Linked DNA regions of Homo sapiens. The protein of the gene in region 2 interacts with the protein of the main gene of each other region in a pairwise test. Each region holds a gene or a part of one and is shown on either strand. Other genes may lie near its edges.

Evidence for each region. The genes of interacting proteins can lie anywhere in the genome.
Region 1: the proteins of ITIH5 (region 2) and HMMR interact in a two-hybrid assay, tested with the Homo sapiens proteins (one large-scale study listed by BioGRID and IntAct).

The regions. Positions count from the first base shown.
Region 1 is NC_000005.10:163,467,132-163,470,631, forward strand, and holds part of HMMR (hyaluronan mediated motility receptor), read left to right. Parts: intron 1-569; coding exon 570-617; intron 618-2,509; coding exon 2,510-2,698; intron 2,699-3,500. UniProt on the Homo sapiens protein: Receptor for hyaluronic acid (HA). Involved in cell motility. When hyaluronan binds to HMMR, the phosphorylation of a number of proteins, including PTK2/FAK1 occurs.
Region 2 is NC_000010.11:7,562,467-7,565,966, reverse strand, and holds part of ITIH5 (inter-alpha-trypsin inhibitor heavy chain H5 isoform 1 precursor), read left to right. Parts: intron 1-2,582; coding exon 2,583-2,884; 3' UTR 2,885-3,500. UniProt on the Homo sapiens protein: May act as a tumor suppressor.

The DNA of each region.
Region 1 (3,500 bases), on a different chromosome or scaffold from region 2:
CTTTCTTCCATTTTTAGATGGAAAAGATATTCTTTTTCTAGCCATTGTGTCAGAAAGTCTGTTGGATATAAAAAGATATAGTGTGAAAATTATATGTCTTATTTAGAATAAAGCCAATGAGAAAATTAGAATCAGAGCTTATGCTGTTTCAGTTTTTATTTCTTTGCATCTGTATATTTTCCTCTTCGGGTATCAAAGTTTAAGTCGATTTCTCTTTGTAAGATTCTTTCTGAGATAGCATAATTAAATATTCAAGATGTGTTGCTATTTAACATTAGAGGGAGGCAGTCAGTAGCTTTATTCATAAAGTTCCACCTGTTCTTTTCACTGGGCTGATTAGGAAAATCCTGATTTATTGGGTTGAAAATTTCTAAACCTAAAATGTCTTGAGATTTTTAGAATATTTTATTTATCAGATGAGTGGCCTACACAATGTTTAACAGTGTAATGTTTAAAATAGAAACTAACTGATTGGATCCCTTCATCTTTTCTGATAACTGAAAAACAAATTTGGCTGTCATATCTGTGACATCTAAATTTGCTTATAAGTTTTTTTGGCTTTTAAACAGAAGGAATCTCAAAAGAATGATAAAGATTTGAAGATATTAGAGAAAGAGGTAAGCAGTGCTTTAAACTTAGTGAAAAGTACACATGATAGAAAGAGAGTTACACAGATTTAAGAGATAAGGATTCTGTTGCAGTGTGAGGAGTCCTGCAGTGAGGCAAACATGCCATCCAGAACAGTGCCTACAGGAAAACAGTTCTTACAGTATTTCACAGATCTATCCGGGCTATGTTAATGTGGTATGCTGGCAACGCCGAGATTAAAGATAGCCCACTTAATGAAAAACTGATAACTGAAAAATCATTATGTCAGTTGATTACAATTATATATGTGGATCAAATATTTATATCTATCCATCGTTCACAGTCTTCCTGTATGCTAACTTATGTTAACACAACATAGCTAGAGGATTTCTTAGTGAGCATGCAATCCTAGCTGGTTAGACTGTGATGAAGTTAGGCTAACTCGATGCATTGCTCTGCACAATAGGTATAGGCCTTCCTCATGGGTGAAATAACATAGAGCTGTGCTGTTTGATATGGTAGCTACTCACCACATGTGATGATCTAAATTAAATAAGAACTCAATTCCTCAGTTGCAATAATCACATTTCAAGTGCTCAGTAGCCACATGTGATTGGCAGCTACCATACTGGACAGGGCATTTCCACCATGACAGAAATTTCTATTGAACAGTACTAACCTAAAGAACCCATTTACTTTCCTAGCAATGCTAAGCAGCTCACTGTGAACTTTGCTTCTCTGCAGTCTTTTTTTTCTGTTTCCATTGCTGACCAACTCTTTTCCTCATGGATATATTCTTTCAATATATTAAAATCTTTCATTTGATTACAGTCGAATGTTGGCTTTCAACCAAGAGTATGTCAGAGTAACTGTAAATGTCTGCTCAGTTGCTCTGATTCTTTTTTATGTATTCTAATAATGTTAGCTATCATTTTACTGAGGGTACATGTAGGGGTTGATACTTACAGGAATAATCACTGAGTCTCAGTGAGATAGCTGGTAAGTGAGTGGTAGAGCCAGGATTAGAACTAATAATTTACACCAGTGACTTCATTGGGTATAGAATTTTAGGGTGGCAGGTTCCCCCCCATTATATTAAAAATATCATTTCATTGTCTTTTGGCTTCCACATTTTCTGTTGACAAATATTGGTTTGGGTTTTTTTTTGTTTTTTGTTTTTTTAATCTGGTAATAGCAGCAAGAATGATGGCTTGCCAATGCCTAGTACATTCTCCTCAGAAGCCCAGCTCTGCCTTCTTGAAATAAAAAACATTTAGCATTTTAAGCTAATTTGAATTTGTGTAATTGAAGCTAGAGAAAATAACTATTATAGGTGGAAATACCTTAAAAGTGAATAAATAGCGGCCGGGTGTGGTGGCTTACACCTGTAATCCTAGCACTTTGGGAGGCTGAGGCGGGTGGATCACGAGGTCAGGAGATCGAGACCATCCTGGCTAATATGGTGAAACCCCGTCTCTATTAAAAATACAAAAAATTAGCCGGGTGTGGTGGCCCGTGCTGGTAGTCCCAGCTATTCGGGAGGCTGAGGCAGGAGAATCGCTTGAACCCAGGAGGCGGAGCTTGCAGTGAGCCGAGATCGTGCCACTGCACTCCAGCCTGGGCAACAGAGCACAGAGCAAGACTCCATCTCAAAAAAAAAAAAAAAAAAGTGAATAGATAGCTTAATTGTACTTGGAACTTATGGCAACTAAAGTTCTTATGTTCTTAAAATGCATTAAGACTTTTAAGATGTATCATAGGTAAATATGATTATTCAAATAGCTAGTAACATTAGAATATCTACAAGCATAATGTCAAAATCAGAGATTTTTCCAGAAACTTTAGGGGTGATTATTGGTAGCATCTCCTTATGTTGGCATTCTATCAGTGAATCATTTATTATCACCTTGTTTTTGTCCAGATTCGTGTTCTTCTACAGGAACGTGGTGCCCAGGACAGGCGGATCCAGGATCTGGAAACTGAGTTGGAAAAGATGGAAGCAAGGCTAAATGCTGCACTAAGGGAAAAAACATCTCTCTCTGCAAATAATGCTACACTGGAAAAACAACTTATTGAATTGACCAGGACTAATGAACTACTAAAATCTAAGGTATCTGAGCCTCATGATAATATTTACAATTGAATAAATATAAACACGTTTTTTAGGGCCGGGCACGGTGGCTCACGCCTGTGTTCCCAGCATTTTGGGAGGCCAAGGCAGGCGGATCACCTGAGGTCGGGAGTTCGAGACCAGCCTGACCAACATGGAGAAACCCTGTCTCTACTAAAAATACAAAAATTAGCTAGGCCTATTGGCGGGCGCCTGTAATCTCAGCTACTCGGGAGGCTGAGGCAGAAGAATCACTTGAACCCAGGAGGTGGAGGTTGCAGTGAGCTGACATGGCGCCATTGCACTTCAGCCTAGGCAAGAGAGTGCGACTCCATCTCAAAAAACAAAACAAAACAAAACAACATACACCAGGCGATTCAGATTCATTTTGTTAAGCAAACATGTTTCAAGAAATCCTTTCTCAGGGACTTGCTTTAGAGTCTTGCAATGGACTTTCCAGCATATAGAGGTAAGTGACCACCCAAACAACCTTTCAAAAATGAACCAACAGGCCAGCCACAGTGGCTCACACCTGTAATTCCAGCGCTTTGGGAAGCTGAGACGGATGGATCACTTGAGGTCAGGATTTTGAGACTAGCCTAGCCTAACATGGCGAAACCCCATCTTTACTAAAAATACAAAAATTAGTCAGGTATGGTGGCGTACACCCGTAATTCCAGCTACTCAGGAGGCTGAGGCATGAGAATAGCTTGAACTCGGGAGGCTGAGGCATGAGAATAGCTTGAACTCGGGAGGTGGAAGTTGCAGTGAGCAACACGGCACTCCAGCCTGGGTGACAGAG
Region 2 (3,500 bases):
TGATATTGCCAACACCTTTCGTTTGATTGAGAAATTCAATAGGAATGTGGTTTTCATTATATATACAGTCCGCATATGTATGTATGTATGTGTGTGTGTACATATATATAGTCTATACATATATACATATACATAATGTATTATATACTATACATATATATGTATATATGTATTATATATAGTCTGTATGTATGCATATGTGTACATGCAGACTGCATATGTGTATATAGTCTCTCTATATAAATACATAATATATATTATATATGCAGTCTGTATATGTATGTGTATATGGTCTGTATATGTATGTGTGTGTATATATATACAGTCTATACATATATACATATACATAATGTATTATATATTATAAATATACATGTATATATGTATTATATATACCGTCTGTATGTATATATGTATACACAGACTGATAAGTATGTATATATACAGTCTATATATGCACACATATACATAATATATAATCAGTCTGTATATGTACATATGTATGTCTGTGTGTATATATACACAGTCTATGTGTATATATGTATGTATACTGTCTATGTATGTGTGCATGATATGTGTGTATATATACATACATAGTCTGTGTATGTATATATATATGTATACCATCTTTGTATGTGTGATGTGTGTGTGTATATATATATACAGTCTGTATGTATGGTGTGTGTATATATGTACAGTCTGTGTATATGTGTATATGTATGTATACACTCTGTGTATATATGTATGTATGATGTGTGTGTATGTGTGTGTATATATATATATATAGCCTGTGTATGTATGTGTGTTTATATATACAGTCTGTATGTATGTATGGTGTGTGTATATATACACAGTCTGTATATGTATGTGTGTGTGTGTGTGTATATATATATATACAGTCTATGTGTGTATATATGTATATATATATACAGTCTATGTATGTATATATGTATATATGTAGGTATACAGTCTATATGTATGAACGTGTGTGTATATGTATATGTATGTATACAGTCTGTGTATGTATGGTGTGTGTATATATATATATATACACACACAGTCTGTATATGTATGTATGTGTGTGTGTATACATATACAGTCTGTGTATGTATGTATATATGTATGTATGTATACAGTCTATGGTGTGTGTGTGTATATATACACACAGTCTGTATATATGTGTGTGTGTACACATACACAGTCTGTGTATGTATGTACATATTATATATATTCACACCCACCGACACACACAGTCATGCCTTGCTTAATGACAGGGATACATTCTAATGGTCGTTAGGTGATTTGGTCATTACGTGACCATCTAGAATATCCTTACACAAACCTCTCTAGATAGTGTCGCATACTACCCACTCAGCTAGGCTATGTGGTGTCTCCTATTGCTCCCGGGCTGCAAACCTGTACAGCATGTGACTGCATGGACTACTGCAGGCAATTGCAACACGATGATAAGTATTTGTTCATCTAAACATATCTAGACATAGAAAAGGTACACTAAAAATATGCTATTATAATCTTATGGGACCACCATCATATTTTCAGTCCATCATTGATTAAAATGTCATGATGTGGTGCATGACTATATATGTAACATGAAAATTACATATGTAATATGAAAATTCGATTACTATATATGTAATATGAACATTAGATTACTACATATGTAATATGAAAATTAGATTCCTTCCTGGGCTTTGTGAGCTAGGAATGGGCTTTATAAACCAGTAGTTCTCTTTAGCCTTCTGGAAAAATGAATGAGGAATTAAAATGTAGTCACCTGAGGGTCCAGTTCCTTTGCTCTCAGCAAGAATACACAGACACGAGGCAGCCCTGCCCAGCGCCCAGCCTGAGCGACACCCCCACCGGGGGGGCACCCACGTGGCCGTGCCCAGCAGGCGGGCCATTCTACCCAGCTTTCTTCAACGTGTAATTTCATGTGGGCCCCTTGCCCAAAAATAAAGAGCAAGCCATTGTCAGGGTTCAGTTTAGTAGGCAGGATTTCCTGGCTCTTGAGCTGGCCGCGTTTCGTGGGGCCTGGCGGCCCAGCATGAGCTCCCCTTGCAGACACAGCTCTTTATTCCTGTGGCCTGAGCAGTGCTGCCATCTGACCAGGAGAGTCCTGAGGACGAGGGTCAGAGAGGATCTGAGCTGACTGCTTTCCACCCCCACCCGGCACAGACCTGAGACGGATAGAAAGGAGGCGGGCCTGTGACTGGGAAGAGGACAGAGAGAAGATGGAACACTACTTCCCTCTTCATATGCCCCGTCCTGTCCTCTGGACTCAGTAGGAGACCGTGGTTATCACTATGTGTAGGTTACACAACTTTCTAGTGTTAGCAGCTGGGAAGCTTCCAGCAGTCATGGGTAAATCCCACAATGTGGATAAATCCTCAGCTCTCTCCACCCTGCCCCCCAGAGCACATGTTCTTCCATGTCACTGGGAGAGTCCAGTCTCGGGCTGTGGCCAGTTGTAAGCCTTTCTGCCACTGATAGCTCTGAAGTTGGAGTTCAGCACGAGGTTTCTGCATTTGACTGAGACCCGATGCTTTTCCTTGTCCTCCCAGGTCAGTTCCTGAATCAGGATGCCAGACTCACAGAAGACCCTGCAGGGCCCAGCCAGAACCTCACTCACCCTCTGCTCCTTCAGGTGGGAGAGGGGCCTGAGGCCGTCCTAACAGTGAAAGGCCACCAAGTCCCAGTGGTCTGGAAGCAAAGGAAGATTTACAACGGGGAAGAGCAGATAGACTGCTGGTTTGCCAGGAACAATGCCGCCAAACTGATTGACGGGGAGTACAAGGATTACCTGGCATCCCATCCATTTGACACAGGGATGACACTTGGCCGGGGAATGTCCAGGGAGCTCTGAAGCTGGCAGCCTTAAAGATGCAAGTGCATGAAGGACAGTGATGTGGGGAGGCCGTGGGGCAGCTCTTTTCATGGCTTGTACACGCCTCAGCTCCTGGCAATTAGCTGGACTCCATGACCCACCCCTGGTGCAGCATAGATCCGACGTCTGTCTGGGCGAAGGGTAGGGGTGGGTAGGGGCGGGAAGCCTGAGTGCAAATGTCATTTCCCTCTACTGCCTCTTCCTGCCTCTCCCCACCCTGCCCACATCCACAGAGGGGAGAGAAGGGTCATAGCTAAATGCAACAAAGTCTGTATCTTGTCCCAACCTGCTTTTCTGTTCTGTTAGCATATCATAAAGTAAGCCTTTCTGGTGAAGGAAGGTTGCTATGAAACTTTTTTTCTTGGTGGAAATGGACAAGTTTAGGCACTCTGCTTTTTGCCTTACACTAATGCTTAGAAAGCTGTCTTTTCAGTGGTGTTGCAGCCCCCAGATGTGTGGCCAACCTCTGCTGCAAAGGAATCTCTTGCTGAGTCCAGGCCACCAATCAGGCAAATAGCCCATACATTTGATCGTTGTAAACCATGAAGTCTTTTCTTGCAAGACGTTTTTCTTCTGCTGTGGTATCTTGCCCTTA